Homo sapiens: one gene and its partner. The protein of the gene in region 1 interacts with the protein of each later gene in a biochemical or structural test. Each region holds a gene or a part of one and is shown on either strand. Other genes may lie near its edges.

Region 1 (4,821 bases):
TTCTCTCTTCTCGCATTTATACCCATGAGAATGATGCACACACATTGCTGTATACTTTTTTTTTTCTGAGATGGAGTCTCACCCTGTTGCCCAGGCTGGAGTGCAGTGGTGCCATCTCAGCTCACTGCAACCTCTGCCTCCCACTGATTCTCGTGCCTCAGCCTCCCAAGTAGCTGGGATTACAGGTGTGCGCCACCACACCCAGCTAATTTGTTTGTATTTTCAGTAGAGACAGGGTTTCACCAAGTTGGTCAGACTGGACTTGAACTCCTGACCTCAGGCGATCCGCCTGCCTCAGCCACTCAATGTGTTGGGATTACAGGCGTGAGCCATGGCACCTGACTGCTGTATACTTTTAAAATATCAGTAAAGGCCGGGTGTGGTGGCAAATGCCTGTAGAATCCCAGCACTTTGGGAGGTCAAGGCGGGCGGATCACGAGATCAGAAGTTCGAGACCAGCCTGGCCAATATGGTGAAACCCCGTATCTACTGAAAATACAAAAATTAGCCAGGCATGGTGGTGGGCACCTGTAATCTCAGCTACTCAGGAAGCTTCAGCAGGAGAATTGCTTGAACCCAGGAGGTGAAGGTTGCAGTGAGCTGAGATCATGCCACTGTACTCCTGGGCAACAGAGCAAGACTCTATCTCGAAAAAGTATAAAATAAAAATAAAAATAAATAAAATAAAAATAAAATAAAATAAAATAAAATGTTAGTCAATTTGTTATGCTTCTGATTCTTTGTGTTAACTTGGGTTTTCAAGACGATGCCTAAATTATGCCACGGCCAACAACTCGTGTGTGTGAGTGTGAGTAGGTGAACAGAATGGCCTTAAAGACAAGTCCATAAACTGGGAAGAGACAACAGAGAGAGTAGTCTGGTTCTATTTGTTTTATTCTTAAAGATGAACACTTTCAAGCAAAAATAAGAGCCAATTCTTCCCAGAAATGTTATATGCTTAAAATATTGATTGAGAATGTCTCTCCAAAAACAAAAGCAATCTGCCATAACAGGGCTATGATGATAACCAAAAGAAAAAAAAAACACGAGGAGACATAAAAATATTCACTGCAAATTTTCAAGACAATCATTAAGTGCCAAAGAAGTAGTACAGCCATCCTAAACATAGCTTTATTCGTTTTGTGCCCACCTGACTCTTGGTTGCACTGATCCAGGTAAAGGAGCTGGTTCCATCCCATGTGGAAAAGACATAAACCTGTATCAGAAGGATCCTAAGAGGGGACAGAGTCCAATCCACACAATATCTGATGAAGGAAGCTGTCCTTTACATCTCACTGGACATTGGCCACCGTGTTCACCCACCGTGACAAAACCCACCGCTTTTTACACACAGTTCTAGAAGGTTCCCCACGATCTACTTGCAACCAACCTTTTTAGCTTAGTGTCGATGACTCCCTATTACTCATCCAATGCTGCAGCCACAGGGAGGAAGACTCAGTGCTTTCGGTAGTAGTCCCTTCCTTCTTATTTTATTTCTGTACTCTCTGCCTATGATACCCTATGTCCAATAGAGCCACTGGCCTCCCGCAAGAAAAGCTACCCAACCTCGAGGGCCGGCACAGATACCACCTTCTTCCTGCTGCCTCCCAGTCCCAGCCAGCGCTAGCCCACCTCTCTCCTTTGCATTTGTACACCATCTTTTTCTCCATCTCAGTTACAGAACATCTCATTATAATCACCTACTGTCTACCAGATTTCTGATCTATCAGTTTTCAGATTTCAAGGGCAGACCCTCATCTCTCTTGTCTGGCGTATCTCAAAGGGCTTCTCATAGGAGTGTCTGTTGAACTGAAATCCAATAAATGATTATTGCTATACATATATATGTACTTAAGCAGCTTTATTAACCTATAATTCACACACCATACAATTTGCTCATTTAAAGTGTATAACTCAATGGTTTTAGTATTATAATGGTGGAAATTAACCATTACCACCATCCAATTTGAAAATATTTTTATAACCTCAAAAAGAAATTCCAGTGAGTTAGTATTCCTTCCTTCTTTATTCTCCCAACTCCTCTAGCCCTAGGCAATCAGTAATCCACTAATTCTAATTTTTGTCTCTATGGATTTGCCTATTCTAGACATTTCACGTAAACAGAATCATACAATATGTGTCTTCTGTGGCTGCCTTCCTTCACAGACATGTTTCCAAGATTCATCCATGTTGTAGCATTATCAGTACTTCACTCCTTTCTCTTCTACTGTGTGGATCCACCACACTGTATTTATTCATCATCAGCTGGACATTTGGATTGTTTCTACTTACTGGCTATAGTGAACAATACCACTATGAAGATTTGTGTTCAAGTTTTTGTATAGATGCATGTTTTCATTTTCACTAAGGAGTGGAATCCTCACCAACACTTATTATCTGACTTTTTAACTACAGCCATCCTAGTTAGCATGAAGTTGTTTCAATGTAATTTTGATTTGCATTTTTCTACTGACTAATGATGTCAAGCATCTATCATTCCATGTGCTTATTGCCATCTGTATATCTTCTTTAGAGAAATGTCTATTCAGATCCTTTGTCCATTTTTTAAACTAGGCTATTTATCTTTTCATTATTGAGTTATAAGAGTTCTTCATATATTCTAGTTTTAAGTCCCTTATCAGATGTATGATTTGCAAATACCTTCTCTCATTCTGTGGCTTGCCTTTTCACTTTTTTGATGGTTTGCTTTGTAGCACAAGTTTCTAATCTTGATGGAATCCACTTACTTTTTTCTTTTGTTGCTTGTGCTTTTGGTGTCATGTCTAAGAAGCTTTGCCTAACATAAGATTGCAAAGATTTACTTCTATGTTTTCTAAGAGTATTAAAGTTTTAGCTTTTAATTGAGTTCTTCAATCCATTTTGAATTTTTTTTTCCTTTTGAGACAAGGTCTCACTCTGTCACCCCAGATGGAGTGCAGTGGTGCAATCTCTGCTCACTGCAATTTCCACCTCCCAGGCTCAAGCAGTCCTCCCACTCAGCCTCCTGAGTAGCTGGGACCACAGGCACATGCCACCACGCCCAGATTAATTTTTTTGTATTTTCGGTAGAGATGGGGTTTTGCCATGTTGCCCAGGCTGGTCTTGCTCCGGAGCTCAGGCAATCCACAGGCCTTGGCCTCCCAAAGTGCTGGGATTACAGGCGCGAACCACTGCACCCAGCCATTTTGAGTTAATTTTTTCATCTTTTTGTATGTGGCTATTCAGTTGTCCCAGATTCATTTGCTGAAAAGACTATTCTTTCCCCAGTGAATGGTCCTGGCATCCTTGCCAAAAATCAGTTGACCATAGATACACGGGTTTATTTACTGACTCTCACTTCTATTCCACTGACCTATATGTCTATTCTTATGCCAGTAGCACACTGTCTTGATTACTGTGTTTTGCAGTAAGTTTTGAAATCAGGAAGTGTATCAGTTCTCCATATGAATTTCCATATGAATTTTGGGATCAGCCTGTCAATTTCTACAGAAAAAAACAACTGGGGGCTTTGATAGGGATTGCACTAAATCTGCAAATCAATTTGGAGAATACTGCCATCTTAACAGTATTAAGTCTTATGATCCACAGACATGGGATGCCTTCCCATTTATTTAGGTCTTCTTGAATTCCTGTGCATTTTTTTAGACTGAATCGACATCGCTCCGTCACATCTAAGATATCCATAAATTTCCCTCGTTTACCTGTAACACCCATTAAAACAGAAATATGTAAATGCTGCATATTTTCAGAACTCTGAGGACTGTAAAGAATTTGGGGTTTTCTTATTTAGTTGGAATGCCTTATTAGGTATTAAAGTCAGTGACGTTAAGTTTTCTGCTGCTATCTTTTGAATAAAATTTATTGAAGAAAAATGTCACCAACAAAACATGATTTTAAAACTAACACATAAGGCCAGGCGCGGTGGCTCACGCCTGTAATACCAGCACTTTGGGAGGCCAAGGTGGGCGGATCACAAGGTCAGGAGATTGAGACCATCCTGGCTAACACGGTGAAACCCCATCTCTACAAAAATACAAAAACAAAGAAAAATTAGCCAGGCGTGGTGGCAGGTGCCTGTAGTCCCAGCTACTCGGGAGGCTGAGGCAGGAGAATGGCGGGAACCTGGGAAGCAGAGCTTGCAGTGAGCTGAGATCGCGCCACTGCACTCCAGCCTGGGTGACAGAGCGAGACTCCATCTCAAAAAACAAACAAACGAACAAAAAAACTAACACATAATGTACGTGATCCTGTTTATCTATATAAAGTATAAAAATACACATGTATGCAAGAGCATAGAAAATACTTTGGGAGAAAATACACTTTGTTTTTTAGGACAGAGTTTTGCTTTGTCACCCAGGCTGGCGTGCAGTGGTGTGATCTCGGCTCACTGCAACCTCCGCCTCCCAGGTTCAAGCGGTTCTCCTACCTCAGCTCCCATGTAGCTGGGATTACAGGCGCATGCCACCACGCCCGGCTGATTTTTGTATTTTTAGTAGAGATGGGGTTTCGCCATGTTGGCCAGGCTGGTCTTGAACTCCTGACCTCAGGTGATAAGGCCCACCTTGGCCTCCCAAGGTGCTAGGATTACAGGCGTGAGCCACCGCAACTGGCCACCAATTTGTTATAGTAGTTAGTTATCACGGCCTGGTGCTGTGGCCCACATACATAATCCCAGCACTTTGGGAGGCCAAGAAAGGAGGACTGCTTGAGCCCAGGAGTTCCAGACCGGCCTGGGCAACATACTAAGACTCTGTCTTTAAGAAAAAAAAAAAAAAGGTATCTCTGGGGAGAAAGGAGCAATGGGATAAGGAAGAAGAAGAG
Region 2 (4,821 bases), on another chromosome or scaffold:
TTTAAACCTTGTAAAACTTGAAGCCTTATTAGATAAATACCTAAATACCTTATTAGCCAGGCCAGTGGTTTTCAAACTTCTTTGTGAACAATGGAAAACTTTTTGCAGGCAGAATCTTCCACAGAACACCAACACAGAAAACCAATAAAAAACACAACTTCCCTGGTCAAAGCTGGGATTGGCATCTAGTCCTAATGACCCATCCTCCTCCTCTGCCCTGCCCAGGGTCCTCAGCCACCTTTGTAGAACCCTGGGCTTCTGGGGATTCTGTGAATAGCCTTCAGCCAGACATTGATATGCTCTGATTCATTTAATCCTCACAACCCGATGACGTTTGTCATTTATGCCATTTTACAAGTGAGAAAAGCCAGGTTGGGAAGGACTAAATGACTTGTCTAAAATCATTTAGCTAAGTAAGTTAAAAAAACAAGGATTCAAACCTGAATCTGTCAGACTCCAAGCCTACTATTTTCATCATCTGCCTCCACTGTGCCTGTCTTCTAGGCTGGTCAATATTTAGAAAGATATTTGGAACTTAATGGGCAAACTAATGTCCTCTGCCAGATTTGCTCTTGGTTCTCCAGGGTCTTTGGGGGCCTCACTCCAGAGCCTCCTAACCAGTCCTATTTGACCAGATGGTACCAAAGAGTAACAATAACAATAACAATAATAATAGTTGACATTTATGGTATTGATATGTGCTTGGCTATGTGCTAAACATGTTAAGTGATAGTCCCATTTATTTCTCACAACAATGCTATAAAGTAGGAACTATTGTTTTTATTGTCGCATCATTTGCAGATGAAAAAACTGAGCACTGCAGAGATTGTGTAGTTGGGTAAAATATCTAGTAAGTGGTGGAGACAGAATTTGTCTTGACAACAGTGTATGCTGTCTTTTTCCCTCTTAACATACTCTGGTCCCCCCTGGTAATGAACTTGGCACCATTCTCTCAGCTAGCTGGGGTTCTCTTGACATTTTTATTTGACCTTACTCTTTTTTGGTAAACTAACTCCTGCTTAGCAGTAGGTATTTTCACTTAATGTATTATACCTCCTGGGAAAACAAACGTGTACTGGAAAAGAAATATCTGACGCACAATAAAATTTTAAAGAGTTTATTTAGTAAGAAGCCAGTCATACATTGGGAAACACCAGACCAAAAGAGGTTTAGTGTTCCAATGACAAAACGCCAGAGGCAAGTATTTATTGGGAAAGTACAGAAACAAACAATTTATTTGGTTGGTTTGCAATTACATAATTGCCTTTTTTCAGGTACTGTATTGGAAAGTCCTTACTGACATAACAATATGTGAGTTGGATGCTTATGATTGGCTGGGGTTATGTTTTAGTTCTAACATAAGCATTTATCAGATATGAACCTGAGGTAAGTTTCACTTCTGTTTGCAATTTAAGGTGCATGCATATTGGTGCACACCTGTAGTCCCAGCTACTTGGGAGGCTAAGGAGATCAGTTGACCTGGGAGGTTGAGGCTGCAGTGAGCCACGATCCAGCCAGGATGACACAGTGAGACCCTGCCCCAAAAAGAAAAAGAAAAAAAAAGTAAGAAAAAGAGTACCCTTGTTTCTCACCTCCCAGAACCACTTTGTATTGGGAACTTTATATCAGTAATATAGATCCAGATTTTAGCAAATCCATGAAACCTATCTGACCTAAGAGCTTCCTGGAGTCAAGTCAGAGCTCTCCTGAGGATGAATAACTATAGAGCTCTCTTGAGAGTTCCATAGTTAACCAAGCTTTATACATTTATTCCATAAATATATTTTGTATACAGACACTGTACTAGCTTCTTAGGTGTTTCTTTTTTTGCTATGACCAGCCTATCTAAAAAACTGCATTTGCCAGGCATGGTGGCTCATGCCTGTAATCCCAGCACTTTGGGAGGCTGAGGTGGATGGATTGCCTGAGCCTAGGAGTTCAAGACCAGCTTGGGCAACATGGCAAAACCCTCTCTCTCTCTTAAAAAACAAAACAAACAAAACAAACACAAAAAACACACACACACAGAAAAAATTAGCTCAGTATGGTGGCATGCACCTGTCATCCCAGCTACTTGGGAGGCTGAGGTGGGAGAATCACCTGAGCCTGGGAGGCCAAGGCTGCAGTGAGCTGTGATTGCATGACTACACTCCAGCCTGGGCAACAAAGCAAGACCCCATATCAAAAATAAGAAGAAAGAAGACTCTGTTGACCTTTCTAAGAATGGATTACCTGTTATAGAGCAAATGCTATCCTCTGGCCTCAACCTCCTGTGTAGTTGGGACCACAGGCATATACCACCATGTCCAGCTAATTTTTCTTTTAAATTGTAGACAGGGTCTAACTATGTTACCCAGGCTGGTCTCGAGCTCCTGGGCTCAAGTGATCCTCCCACTTTGGGCTCGAGTGATCCATCCAGCACTCCCAAAGTGCTGGGGTTATAGGCATGAGCCACTGCATCCAGCCAATAGACTATTCTATATATCAATATATGCAATAGGACATTTATTTAATATTTTCAGAGATGATTATGATGAGTTCCTGAATTTGAACCAGCCTCCAGTGAATGCATCCTGGAATACCTTTTGCTTTCTTTTAGCCTAGAGTTTATCTGTTTTCACATGACATGAAAATAGCATGACCTGGGTAATTCATTTGACAAGTATTTACCTAGGACTCGTAAGTGCTTTTTATTGTTACAAGTAGAAGAAGACCATGCCATTATGCTTGTAGGTCTTTAAAGGACCTACAACCTAGTTGGAAATAATTATAGAATGGGATTAGATAGTATATATCATGATATCAACTTACTCATATTAAAGACCCTACTTTGTCTCTTTTTCTATTTTTTAATAATGCCTTAGATAAAAAGATGTAAGGGATCCTTGTTAAATACCTGGGAGACACAACGCTGGGAGTGAGAAATGGAAGACTAATATATTGACGATAGATAGTGATCCAGTAAACAAGAGCATTGTGCTGAAACTAACAAGTTGAAATTAACAAGAATAAATAGAAAGCCTTGCATTTAGTTTCAAAAATCCAGTAGCATAATTACAGGATGGGAGAAAGCTATAATGTCCACATTCAAAAAAAGTCTTGTTGACTTTTTATTTAATCTACACCGTCAGTTAGTATCTTAAAATACTACCGAGAACCAGGCACCATGTAGGCACTGGGGGACCTCACCACCTGATGCACCTGCAAACACAGATCTATTGGTCTCTAACGTGCAGCTGGAAGAGAAAATAAGCCTGCTTCATAGATCTCATCAGAAGGAGACACAACTCTCTAAGAAGGTCATATTTGATAAAATAGCCTGTAGAAGAGGGAGACTAGAGTGGTGAGTGACAGAAAAACCAGGCTGTACAGAAATATTGAGTGACCACAGGATGTTTAGTCTAAAGAAGAAAAGATTATAGGACTTTGATGGCTGTTTTCCAGCCTTTGGAGAGCTGTTGTGTGACTACAGGGGAGCCTTAAGACGTCTTTTGGGTTATTTCAGTTGGACCAATGCGGTGAAAGTTAGAAAGGACAGATTCATGTTGATGTCTTAAAAGTTTTCCTGCCAACCTTGGAAAAGGCTGCCTCTAAAATTGCAAGATTTCTAAAAAAGCTATATTGTCAGTGACTAGAATGGATGATCTCTAAGAATTCCTCTGATGCCAGTTTTTTTCATTTTTATTTTCCAAATTAAGTGGGAGGTAAGAGAACTTTTCATATACTTTCCTGAAGCCTTCAGACCTGCAAGAATTTTGCCAGCCCACAATTAATGAGTATGCTTCTCCATCTTCCCCACTTTCACTGGCTAAAACAACCTTGATTTAGTGAACAGAATGTCATAGTAAATATACTCCAACCATTAAATTACACCACTGACCCACTTAGGGTGAAACAGTTATTAAATTCTAAACTGTGTCTCCATTCATTCACCAGTTGGACATGTAAATACCAGTGCTGACCAGAACATACAAGAAGGGGAAAATCTTGCCTCAAAGTGAGGTAAATGGTGAGAGGAAGCTGACAGACCAGAGCCTAAGAGGTGGAGCACATAGAAGCTTCCACATACTGTCTGCAGCTCAAGAGGGAGTAATGGTGCCCTGAGCTGTGCAAATGCCAGAGGAAGGGAGGCACCTCTCAGCTCCCTGGAGCTACCCTAATATTTACTGTGGTGGTGTCTCCCAAGCTTCACAGTTCAAGCCAGCATCTTCGGAACACCTGCTATGATTTTAGATGAGCCCAGATGTCATCACACAGCTAAGAAGATAAACCATTACCACATTCTCAGCTGGCCATTTCTGTTGTTCACTTCTGACCAAGGAATACTTAGCCCAGAAGGTTGCCTTCAATGCAACAAAATGTACAGCTCTAGGGGAGGAAGACCAATTAAATACTTCTGTCAATAAGTTGCTGTCACCAAAAACTGTGAATTTACCTCTTTATTTTTTGCCAATTACATCATTTTGACATCATGTTAATTTTCCTGGGGAATCACTGTTTAGTTTAAAACAAGGAAGTTTTACTGCTCTAATATTGACATAGATTGACAAATAAACATAGAAGCCCAGTTTTTATTATTACCATTAACTAGAAGTCTTGTTACAGTGAGACAAGATATCTTGTTTTTAAGTTGAAGTGCCTAAATAATCTGAAAGTTATTTTGAATGATACTAACAACCACTTGGAAAAATCTGGTTAAAACATAGAGTTAAACTAAAAGATAAGATCAGTTGCATGATTGCAGAGTTACAGAGAATTTACAAGACTTTAAATAGTTACCGATAGTGATGCTTTTATACAGTGAGCAGGAATAGTAACATA

What was found. Proteins that work in one complex are often made in the same cells at the same time.
Region 2: the proteins of MAPK1 (region 1) and PTPRR form a complex in vitro, tested with the Homo sapiens proteins (2 studies listed by BioGRID, with this or other methods).

The regions. Positions count from the first base shown.
Region 1 is NC_000022.11:21,800,879-21,805,699, forward strand, and holds part of MAPK1 (mitogen-activated protein kinase 1), read right to left. Parts: intron 1-4,821. UniProt on the Homo sapiens protein: Serine/threonine kinase which acts as an essential component of the MAP kinase signal transduction pathway. MAPK1/ERK2 and MAPK3/ERK1 are the 2 MAPKs which play an important role in the MAPK/ERK cascade.
Region 2 is NC_000012.12:70,640,514-70,645,334, reverse strand, and holds part of PTPRR (receptor-type tyrosine-protein phosphatase R isoform 1 precursor), read left to right. Parts: intron 1-4,821. UniProt on the Homo sapiens protein: Sequesters mitogen-activated protein kinases (MAPKs) such as MAPK1, MAPK3 and MAPK14 in the cytoplasm in an inactive form.